3 linked regions of the Homo sapiens genome follow. The protein of the gene in region 1 purifies or fractionates together with the protein of each later gene. This does not show direct contact. Each region holds a gene or a part of one and is shown in the gene's direction. Other genes may lie near its edges.

The links.
Region 2: the proteins of VSX2 (region 1) and WDR48 purify together in Homo sapiens (affinity purification with mass spectrometry; 2 studies listed by BioGRID and IntAct, with this or other methods). This does not show direct contact.
Region 3: the proteins of VSX2 (region 1) and USP12 purify together in Homo sapiens (affinity purification with mass spectrometry; 3 studies listed by BioGRID and IntAct, with this or other methods). This does not show direct contact.

Annotation. Positions count from the first base shown.
Region 1 is NC_000014.9:74,256,407-74,259,957, forward strand, and holds part of VSX2 (visual system homeobox 2), read left to right. Parts: intron 1-3,195; coding exon 3,196-3,376; intron 3,377-3,551.
Region 2 is NC_000003.12:39,058,490-39,062,145, forward strand, and holds part of WDR48 (WD repeat-containing protein 48), read left to right. Parts: intron 1-3,656. UniProt on the Homo sapiens protein: Regulator of deubiquitinating complexes, which acts as a strong activator of USP1, USP12 and USP46. Enhances the USP1-mediated deubiquitination of FANCD2; USP1 being almost inactive by itself.
Region 3 is NC_000013.11:27,065,643-27,068,376, reverse strand, and holds the end of USP12 (ubiquitin carboxyl-terminal hydrolase 12), read left to right. Parts: 3' UTR 1-2,221; downstream 2,222-2,734. UniProt on the Homo sapiens protein: Deubiquitinating enzyme that plays various roles in the regulation of the immune response and inflammation.

The DNA of each region.
Region 1 (3,551 bases):
GGTGACAGAGCAAGATTCCATCTCAAACGAAAGTAATTACTTTCAATGGCAAAAACTGCAATAAGTTTTTGCACCAACCTAATATAATGCACTGTATTCAAGCAGGACAGACTGTCACCCGACCAGGAAGTAGGTGGCTTCTTATATTCATGAACCAAACCTCTCCAGCCCTCTGTGGTCACACTTGGTGTCTGGAATTCCATCACCAGGGGATTCATTCTTTGCTGTCTTCTCTGAGAGGTGGATAAAACCGGGAGTCATACTTTTTTTTTTTTTTTTTTTTTTGAGACAGAGTCTTGCTCTGTTGCACAGGCTGGAGTGCAGTGGCACGATCTCGGCTCACTGCAACCTCCACCTCCCAGGTTCAAGCGATTCTTCTGCTTCAGCCTCCTGAGTAGCTGGGATTACAGGTGTGCGCCACCGTGCCCGGCTAATTTTTGTATCTTTAGTAGAGATGGAGTTTCCCCATGTTGGCCAGGCTGGTCTCAAACTCCTGACCTCAGGTGATCCACCCGCCTCGGCCTCCCAAACTGCTGGGATTACAGGCATGAGCCACTGCGCCAGGCCGGGAGTCATACTTTTATGTAGATTAGTCCTTTTGGATTTTTCCTCTGTGGGAGAAAGCAGCTTGCAGCAAGCAGATACGCTAAGGGGAGGATGATGGGGCAGGATTGAGGCCCCAGACAAACCGCAGGCCCCGGGTAACACAGCTAGTCGGGCACACATCCTGCAGCACAGGCCCGCGGCGCTGGGGAGATCTACATACGGCATGGAGCCAGGCCGGGACGCAGGCCCGAGTTAGCACGGCTGGCATTGCTGCCACTCCCTTCAGGGCAGGGAGGACAGTCATCTAGCGGCCTTCGGATTACACAAACCCTTTCCTTGGCGGGGGTCTCCCAGGGTGGTCAGGTCCGGACCAGGCAGAGGCCTTGCACCTGTGCTTCCCAGCCCCCCAGTTTTGCGCGGGAACTGCAGGTGCCAAACCCGGAGGCAGCAAAAGTGCTGCCCAAACGGGGATGGAGCCACCCGGGGCGGGAGAGGCCGGGGGCATCTAAGGCCGTGTAGCTCCCATGTTTAGAGGCTCCCAGTTATTTACAAATGAATAAAGGCCAGAGGACACGCGTTTGGGTCAACTTAAAGGTGCGCGTGCAGTGTTCTGTGACCTCCGTGGGATGCGAGGCTGGCGGGCCGGAGCGCCCCTGCCGGGGATTGGCCGGCCGCGCTCCGCCGCAGACTCCGCGCCGCCGGGCGCTCACTTCGCCACCTGACGGCAACGGCGGGAACCGCAGGAGCGCGCGGACCACCCCCCACCCACTTCCCCCGAGCCCCGCCGGCCCCAGCTCCCGCTCCCCAGGAAGCGAAGGGTTAAGCTGTCAGCGGCGCGATGTTAAACAGGTGTCAAAGGCGCCCCATATATCTGCAGATTGAAATCAAATTCTTCGCCGTATAAAAAGATAAATTACCCAGGCGCTGCCGAGCGTCCCACTCATCACGCCAGCGCCAGACGGCAAGCAATTTTTTTTTAATGTGCTAACGACCTAATCAAGCAATCAAGTCGGAGGAGATTGCAGCGTGACCCGGGCAGCCATCTGCCGCCGAGCCCGCATGCATTTCCGCGCCGCGCGGGGCGGGGGCCGCGAGGGGCTGCCGGGGGGAAGGGGGAAAATCCTAAACAAATTAACACCCAATTTTCCCCGTCTAATTAGTTAAATGAGAAGAGTTGGGGGTCCCCGGGGAAGCGGGGGCGCTCGCGACGAGGCGAGTGCTGCCTCCCCAGCATTAATTAGTGCGGGTCAATGCCGCGGCTCCCGGGAGAGCAGCCGCTTTAATTTCCCGTGGTATTTCAGTGCCTGAGGCCCATCGATTCAAACTGAAATTAACTTATTTTTCAATCAGCCCAGGGCTGCCCCTGGGGGTGACTCTTCTTTTGCCGCCTCCTGAATAGAGCTGGAGCAATTTTTCATTAAAAGCTGATACCTCTGCCGCGGGGGAGGGGGCCCGGAGGGAAGGGCGGCGCCGGCCCAGACCCAGGCAAGGAAATCGGGAGGAAATGAACAGATTTCCCAAGCCCGCCTCGGTCCTCCCCTCCCGACTCCCTCGACTTCCCTGGGGCGACTCGCTGCCCCCGGGGTCTGAGCCTTTAAGGACTGTGAGGGGCGAGAAGGGAACCGCCAGGCTTGGGGCGCACCATTACCCCGCGGGCCTGGACCTCCTTGGCGGACAATGCGAGGGGCTCCCGGCTCTGTCAGCTGCGGGAAATCTCCGGAAAGCTGCTCTGGGGGACCAAGAAATGTTCCCTCCTCAAACTTGGCAGGGATTCTGGGATCCTAGAATGGGCTAGAGTGCTGCAGACACCCCAGGGTACCCCACTGTCATTCAGACCCTGCACCAATCAGCTTTGGGGCCAGAGACACATTCGCTAGTGCTTCCTCCGCCCCCACTCCCTCCCAGGTCCCTCCTCCCATTTGCTCCTCAACCCTGGAGAATGTTATCTTCATCCCTGGTCCAGCTCCCCAAATACTATTCAGAGTTAGGCTCGGAGCTGTGGGGAGCAGGTACCTGGAGGGCACATGTGGTTTGGCAGAGCTTAGCTGGGACAGGGTGGAGGAGGCAGGCTGACCCAGGCCTCCGAGGGGAGTCTCCCTCCCTGAGTTCCCAGCCTTCCTGATACCTGGGTGAAGTGCCCCTAAGACTGTCCCCTGCCCTTTGTCCCTGATCCCTCACTCACCTGCAGCCCTCCTGGATGGTTGTGACTCTGGGCTTCTGGCAGAGAGGAAGCCCTGAGCCAGAGACACTGCTAGTCCAGTGCTGGGAAAGGAATTTGTCCCTCTGCAAATCAGAAAAAAAGATTTATATGCTGGAGGTGTGAACACATGCAAGAGAGCCATCAGTGGCAGGGCAGGCTTCTCAGCTGCAAACAGTCGATGACACTGGGTCCTGCGCACCTGCAAGACCCTGTCCAGGAAGCATCCATACCCCATCTCCCTAGAACTACCCATGATATTCTCATAAGACTGATGTCCTCCTTCTGAATACTCCCTGAGCCTGGAGGAACACAGAGGGCACCATGGAGTAGGCGAGCTTAGGTTAAGGACGCCCTGCTGGAGAAATCTTCACTCCAAGCCTACAAGGGGTAAGGGCCTTGGGCCCAGCACCTCTCAGAGCAAGCCTCTGACCTGTTCTGTGCACCTGCAGGTCTGGTTCCAGAACCGTCGAGCCAAGTGGAGGAAGCGGGAGAAGTGCTGGGGCCGGAGCAGTGTCATGGCGGAGTATGGGCTCTACGGGGCCATGGTGCGGCACTCCATCCCCCTGCCCGAGTCCATCCTCAAGTCAGCCAAGGATGGCATCATGGACTCCTGTGCCCCGTGGCTACTGGGTAAGAGCCCGCACCCTCCTTGGGGTCCTGCCCTGCGGTGAGGAGAGCGGGCTCCTTGGAGGAGGGGACAGAGCCTTGAGGCAGGGGCACTTGGGCCACAGCAGCCTAGCAGGAGAGAAATTCTTCAAAGCAAACCTCTTGGTCTATCCTGGGGGACTCAGAGCAGGGTGGGCCT
Region 2 (3,656 bases), on another chromosome or scaffold:
AATCTCCCAGAAGTCTGGATATCAAGATTTAGATATGCTGCACAGTCTCAGTTAAAGGAAATGTGAGCTAGGTAAGCAGCCCTGGAACCCCAGAGAAAGAGAGATTGAGAGAGGCTGAAGTTGACATTGAAGCTAGCTTGGTTCCTGGTGGCTTTGGAAAGCCAATTCATGCAATGATACGTATGTCTTTTATATGCCAGACACTATAATGGGGGCACAGGGGTGGAAGGAACAAGGCAGACAAGTCCCTTGCCTTCTTGGAGCTATTATTCTAATGGAGAAGATACACCAAAAAATATAAATGTGGCTGGGCGCGGTGGCTCACACCTGTAATCCCAGCATTTTGGGAGGCCAAGGTGGGTGGATCAGAAGGTCAGGAGTTTAAGACCAGCCTGGCCAAGATGGCGAAACCCTGTCTCTACTAAAAATACAAAAATTAGCTGGGCGCCATAGCAGGCACCTGTAATCTAAGCTACTCGGGAGCCTGAGTTGGGAGAATTGCTTGAACCTGGGCAGCAGAGGTTGCAGTGAGCCAAGATCGCACCACTGCACTCCAGCCTGGGCGATACAGTGAGACTCCGTCTCAAAAAAAAAAAAAAAAAAAAAATACAGAATGTGGTAAGAACTGTTAAATAAGTAATGTAAGATAGATAGGGTCATAACCCTGAGGAGAATGAGATCAGAAAGGCCTTTCCAAGGAGACCTTTCTCCTAAGATCTGAAGAGTAAGGGTGAGTTAGACAAGATGAAAGCTGGAGAAAGAGTATTCCTATAGGGATTCGAGGGGTGGTGAATCTTCATGACACTGGCAACAGTAAATGAGAAGGTACTGGGATGGGAAAGAGCTTGATGTGTTTACGGTAACAGAAAGGAGTTTGGAATGACTGTCATAAAAGAAGCTGGGGGCAGTCAGTTTGAAATGAGTGGGGGATGCAGGGTCAGAACTAAGCATTTGAGGAGTTTGAACTTTAAATTTTGTGAAAAGCCATTGGAAAGTTTCAGCAGAGAAGTGTCATGATTTGATTTTTTAAATGCCTCTTATAAATGATGACTGTATTTCCTGACCTTGGGCTCTGTTAAGATATCCTTGTGTTGAAGTCTCCTTTAAAAAACAAACAAACAAACAAAAGCTGGTTTGAGTAGATCTCAGTTACAGTTAATTGCATCCAAAAGACTGGGTTAAAACAACATCCTTGTAGCTATTTGTGTCTGCAGCCCTGGCCCTTTTTAAAGGACAAATTTCTGGAAATTGAATTTTAAAGAACATTTCAAAGAGTTTAAAACTTTTGTCAGAAAGTGTTTATTTATCCTCAGGGGAAACAAAAATGGCAGTTATTTTAAAAAATTCTTGTATTATAGGTAAAATAATCTCATATTAATTTTGTCTTTGATTATTTATGGGGTTTTTGGCCATTTCTTTTTTAAAAAGTCCCTTTTTGTAACTGTCCCTCTTTCTGTTGGTAAATTTGACTTTTTCTTATTTTATAAGGAATCTTGTTAAGAGTAAACTTTCTTTCATATTTATTTCATTATTCTCTTAGTCTTGCTCGTGTTACTTTTTGACATTCAGAAGGTTTAAGAAAATAATAACATTGTGATAAAATTCACATACCATAAAGTGCACCCTTTCAAAGTGTACAATTCAGTGATTTTTTTGTATATTCGGAAAGTTGTTTATTGGTCACCTAACTCCAGAATGTTTAATTACTCTATGTTCATTAGCAATTACTCCCCGTTTTTCATTTTTCCCTCCTTCAATCTCCTGGCAATTACTAATCTACTTTCTGTGTGGATTTGTCTATCCTAGACATTATATATAAATAGAGTCATAAAATATGTGGCCTTTTGTAAAATATGTGGCTTCTTTCACTTAGCACATTTTCAAGGTTCATCCACGTTATAGCATGTGTCAGTACAGTGTGTGTGTGTGCATATATATATATATATATGCACACACACACATCACATTTTATTTGTTTTGTCCATTGATGGATATTTGGGTTGTTTCCACTTTTGTAACATTATTGTGAATGCCACAATGCTGTGAACATTCTTGTACATAGAAAAGGTTTTGACTTGTATTTGGCCAGATCACCATTGCTCTTTTCCTTCGTAAAGATTACCATCTTTCTTGGCATGTTGGAAGAGTTTTCTCTGGCAAGGGACTATGTAAATATTCACCTGTCTTTTAAAAATTATTTTTATGCTGGCCAGGTGCAGTGGCTCACGCCTGTAATCCCAGCACTTTGGGAGGCTGAGGCGGGTGGACCACTTGAAACCCAGCCTGGCCAACATGGTGAAACCACCATCTCTACTAAAAATGCAAAAATCAGCTGGGCACAGTGGCATATGCCTGTAATCCCAGCTACTCAGGAGGCTGAGGCACGAGAATTGCTTGAACCTGGGAGGTAGAGGATGTAGTAAGCCAAGATCGGGCCACTGCTTTCCAGCCTGGGTGACAGAGCAAGATTCTCTCAAAAAATAAAAACAAAAATTATTTTTATGGTTATTAAATTTCAGTCTTTAATTCATAGAAAAATTCGTTTTTGGTTTAAGATGTGGAGAAAGGGTATAATTGTTCCTAATAGAATCACTATAGGTACTTGAGATAATTTTTTTTAATTATTATACTTCAAGTTCTAGGGTACATGTGCACAACGTGCAGGTTTGTTACATAAGTATACATGTGCCATGTTGGTTTGTTGCACCCATCAACTTGTTATTTACATTAGGTATTTCTCCTAATGCTATCCCTCCCCCAGCCCCCTACCCCCCAACATGCCCCAGTGTGTGATGTTCCCTGCCCTGTGTCCATGTGTTCTCATTGTTCAGCTCCCACTTACGAGTGAGAACATGTGGTGTTTGGTTTTCTGTCCTTGTGATAGTTTGCTGAGAATGATGGTTTCTGGCTTCATCCATGTCCCTGCAAAGGACATGAACTCATCCTTTTTTATGGCTGCATAGTATTCCATGGTGTATATGTGCCACATTTTCTTAATTCAGTCTATCATTGATGGACATTTGGGTTGGTTCCAAGTCTTTGCTATTGTGAATAGTGCTGCAATAAACATACGTGGGCATGTTTCTTTATAGTAGAATGATTTATAATCCTTTGGGTATATACTCAGTAATGGGATGGCCGGGTCAAATGGTATTTCTAGTTGTAGATTCTTGAGGAATCGCCACACTGTCTTCCACAGTGGTTGAACTACTTTACACTCCCACCAACAGTGTAAAAGCATTCCTATTTCTCCACATCCTCTCCAGCATCTGTTGTTTCCTGACTTTTTAATGACTGCCACTCTAACTGGCATGAGATGGTATCTCATTGTGGTTTTGATTTGCATTTCTCTGATGGCCAGTGATGATGAGCATTTTTTCTTGTGTCTGCTGCAGAAATGTCTTCTTTTGAGAAGTGTCTGTTCATATCCTTTGCCCACTTTTTGATGGGGTTGTTTTTGTTGTTGTTGTTGTTGTACATTTGTTTAAGTTCTTTGTAGATTCTGTATATTAGCCCTTTGTCAGATGGGTAGATTGCAAAAATTTTCTCCCATTCTGTAGGTTGCCTGTTCACTCTGATGATAGTTTCTTTTGCTGTGCATAAGCTCTTTAGTTTAATTAGATCTCATTTGTCAATTTTGGCTTTTGTTGCCATTG
Region 3 (2,734 bases), on another chromosome or scaffold:
TATTTGTCCTTTTATTATGGTTTCTAAATCAGTTATTTTCTTCAGCTTTAATTTCATAAAATTAAAAAACTATTTTAAAAATTCCTGTAGTTGTTGGAATAATTAAAAATTCTGGTGCAGTGGTGGTATACCAATCTTTAGAATTCTTAAGTATTCTAATGTTTCAAGTTGAGATCATGCTTGGGAAAATCATGTCATAGCATTTATGTTATTTTCAGATGCCATTTTTTACCCTGGAAAGAAGTCATAATGTTCATCATAACCCTAGCAGCCTGGATAGTGAGCTAAACAAACCCTTCAAAGATTAAATTTTAATCAAGTAGACCGGGAATACAAAAGACAAGTCCTTCCTTCCCTTCCCCCCACCTTTACAAATCTTACTGGAAGGGTGTTCAGAAATTAAAATCTGTGTTTGCTAAGACTTCATTCTGTTGGGGGTTTTAAGAAGTAATATATGTAACATAAAATATATGTAAACGATTGCAGTTTTTTTGGACGTTTTTCCATGCATCAGTAAGTTGTCTGACAGTAGCCAAATGTAACTTGCAGAAAATTATTGAAAATTATATTCAGAATAATAGCAATCAGGCCTTGGATGTTCTTTATTAAACTCTTTTCAGGCAGTAAATTTAAAAAAAATTGTCATTTTCTAAAGTCCTTTTGCTAAAACTGTTGACTATGGAAAACAACAAAAAGGAATTTTTTAGTCTGCTGCTATTATTAACATTTATTATCTGTATCTTTTGGCTCAGGAAATGACTTCACCTATTTTTTCCATAAGCAGACCTTTAACAGAGTCACTTAATTGGGCTGCTTAAACAGATGTTCTGGGAGAAAATTATAATATTTAGTATTTGTACAAAATATCAAAAAGTATTTTGACAAGTTTCTTTTTAAGATAGTTCCTAAAGCCTTACCCTGGCTAGAGGTGTTTTGTACAAATTATATATAAGCCAGCCTGATCTACCAACATGCCACAGAGAATCACAATCAACAGTGTGGGGAAAGTCAGGGCAGTGGAAGTGGATGCACTCTTTTTATTTTGAAGGCTTAAACCAAATTGTCTTGGAATTAAAGCTGTATTTCTGCAGCTTTCGGTACAGAGAAAAAGAGGAAAGTGAAGCTGTGTCAGTTTTAACATTAGCTATATCAACATGTTTAAGAAAGATAGATGAAGTCATTTGCATAAAGGTACAGCATTGAAATACTATGTTGTGTTTGTTTTTACATTTTTGCATTAAAAAAAAACATGCCGTAAAAGCCAAGTTAAATTTCATATTAAAGCAAGTTCTAGTGTATGTGTTGAGTTCCTGGTAATCACATACTTGTTCACATCTACACCGTACTTCATAGTATGATTTGTCAGGGGAGGGATTGTGGGGTGACAGTTTTACATTTACTTTTTCTTCTTAATGCAGCTGGATCTAAGTAAAATGTTTTGAAGTTTATCAGAAACTAAATGTACTTTTAAAACGTATAGGGTCAGGGTTGGGGGAAAAATACAGGTATAGTAAGTAAGAAAAGTGACCCATGAAGAAAGCATCGTGAGGTTGTATGTTGGTTGACTGTGATTAAAATGCGGGGCTGGTGTAAGTTGTAAGTGGTGGCTGATTGCCGTGTAACTATGTACATGATTGTTGGGATGGCTGTCCCATATTTTGTATATTGGAATAAAAATTTCTATAAATTATTGTAACTAAAAGTAAATATTCTAAATTAAGTCCCACTTCTTAAGTCACATGGCTTCTGTCTTGGAAATTTTACCTTTAAAAGATTATTTAAGACAGGAACCAGGAGGCTTGGGAACAGGGAAAGAGGGAAATGTTGTATTATGTGGGTCTTGGGGCCTCTAACCATCAGTATAGGGTTTTTTCTTTCCTTGATGGCAGTAGAAAGACCTCATTTTCATAACATAACTACTCTTGATACTTTCTTTAAAAACACTTTTTATTAAAGATTCTATCATGAGGTATTTGGCTGGGAGCTGGGAGGCTAAAGCGCTCATGTCCTGGCTCTTCAGTGAATTTAACTGTGTGACCTTGGGCAAGTCACTTAACCTCTCTGTGCTTCAGTCTCCCTGTCTTGTAAAATGGGAGTAATACCTACCTCACAGGGTTGTTGTGGGGATTAATTAGAGATAATGTCTGTAAAGCATTTAAGGTTCTTGAAGAAGGCACTATATAAATACAAAATAATATCTATTAAAGTTGGTTTATTTGTGCCTGTGGGTTTCAAGTGTGTTTTTTCCTTTTTGCCTAAAATGTATTTACAGATTAGAAGTAGACACTTTGGAAACTGTGTTACTGCTTTTGCCCAAGCTCCTACTTCTGTATCCAAAGAGATTTTCCCTAGAACAGAATTGCATGTGTGTAAAACAACATTCTACATGTGCCTGCATTTATTTAGCACATAGTAGCTTGTGTCACCTTTCTGTGATAGCATGTCTGAAAAGTTCAAAGTTTAAATTTGAACATTGAGAGTCATAGAATCTTAGAGGGTAAAATAGGTAAAATACCTTAAAGATCACTGTTTCTCCTGCTCCTCCTCCTTTCCTGTGTAGTAATTGCTCCTGTAAAATCTGTTTTCACAAGTGGTCAGTCAACCTGCACTTGAGTGCTGGAAGCCTGTTCCATTATTGAGTAACTTGAGTTGTTATTTATGTTGCCATTATTTTCAGCCCATCCTTCATTCTCCCAGTGTGCTTCTGATCTCAAGGCTGATCTTTGTATTAGAT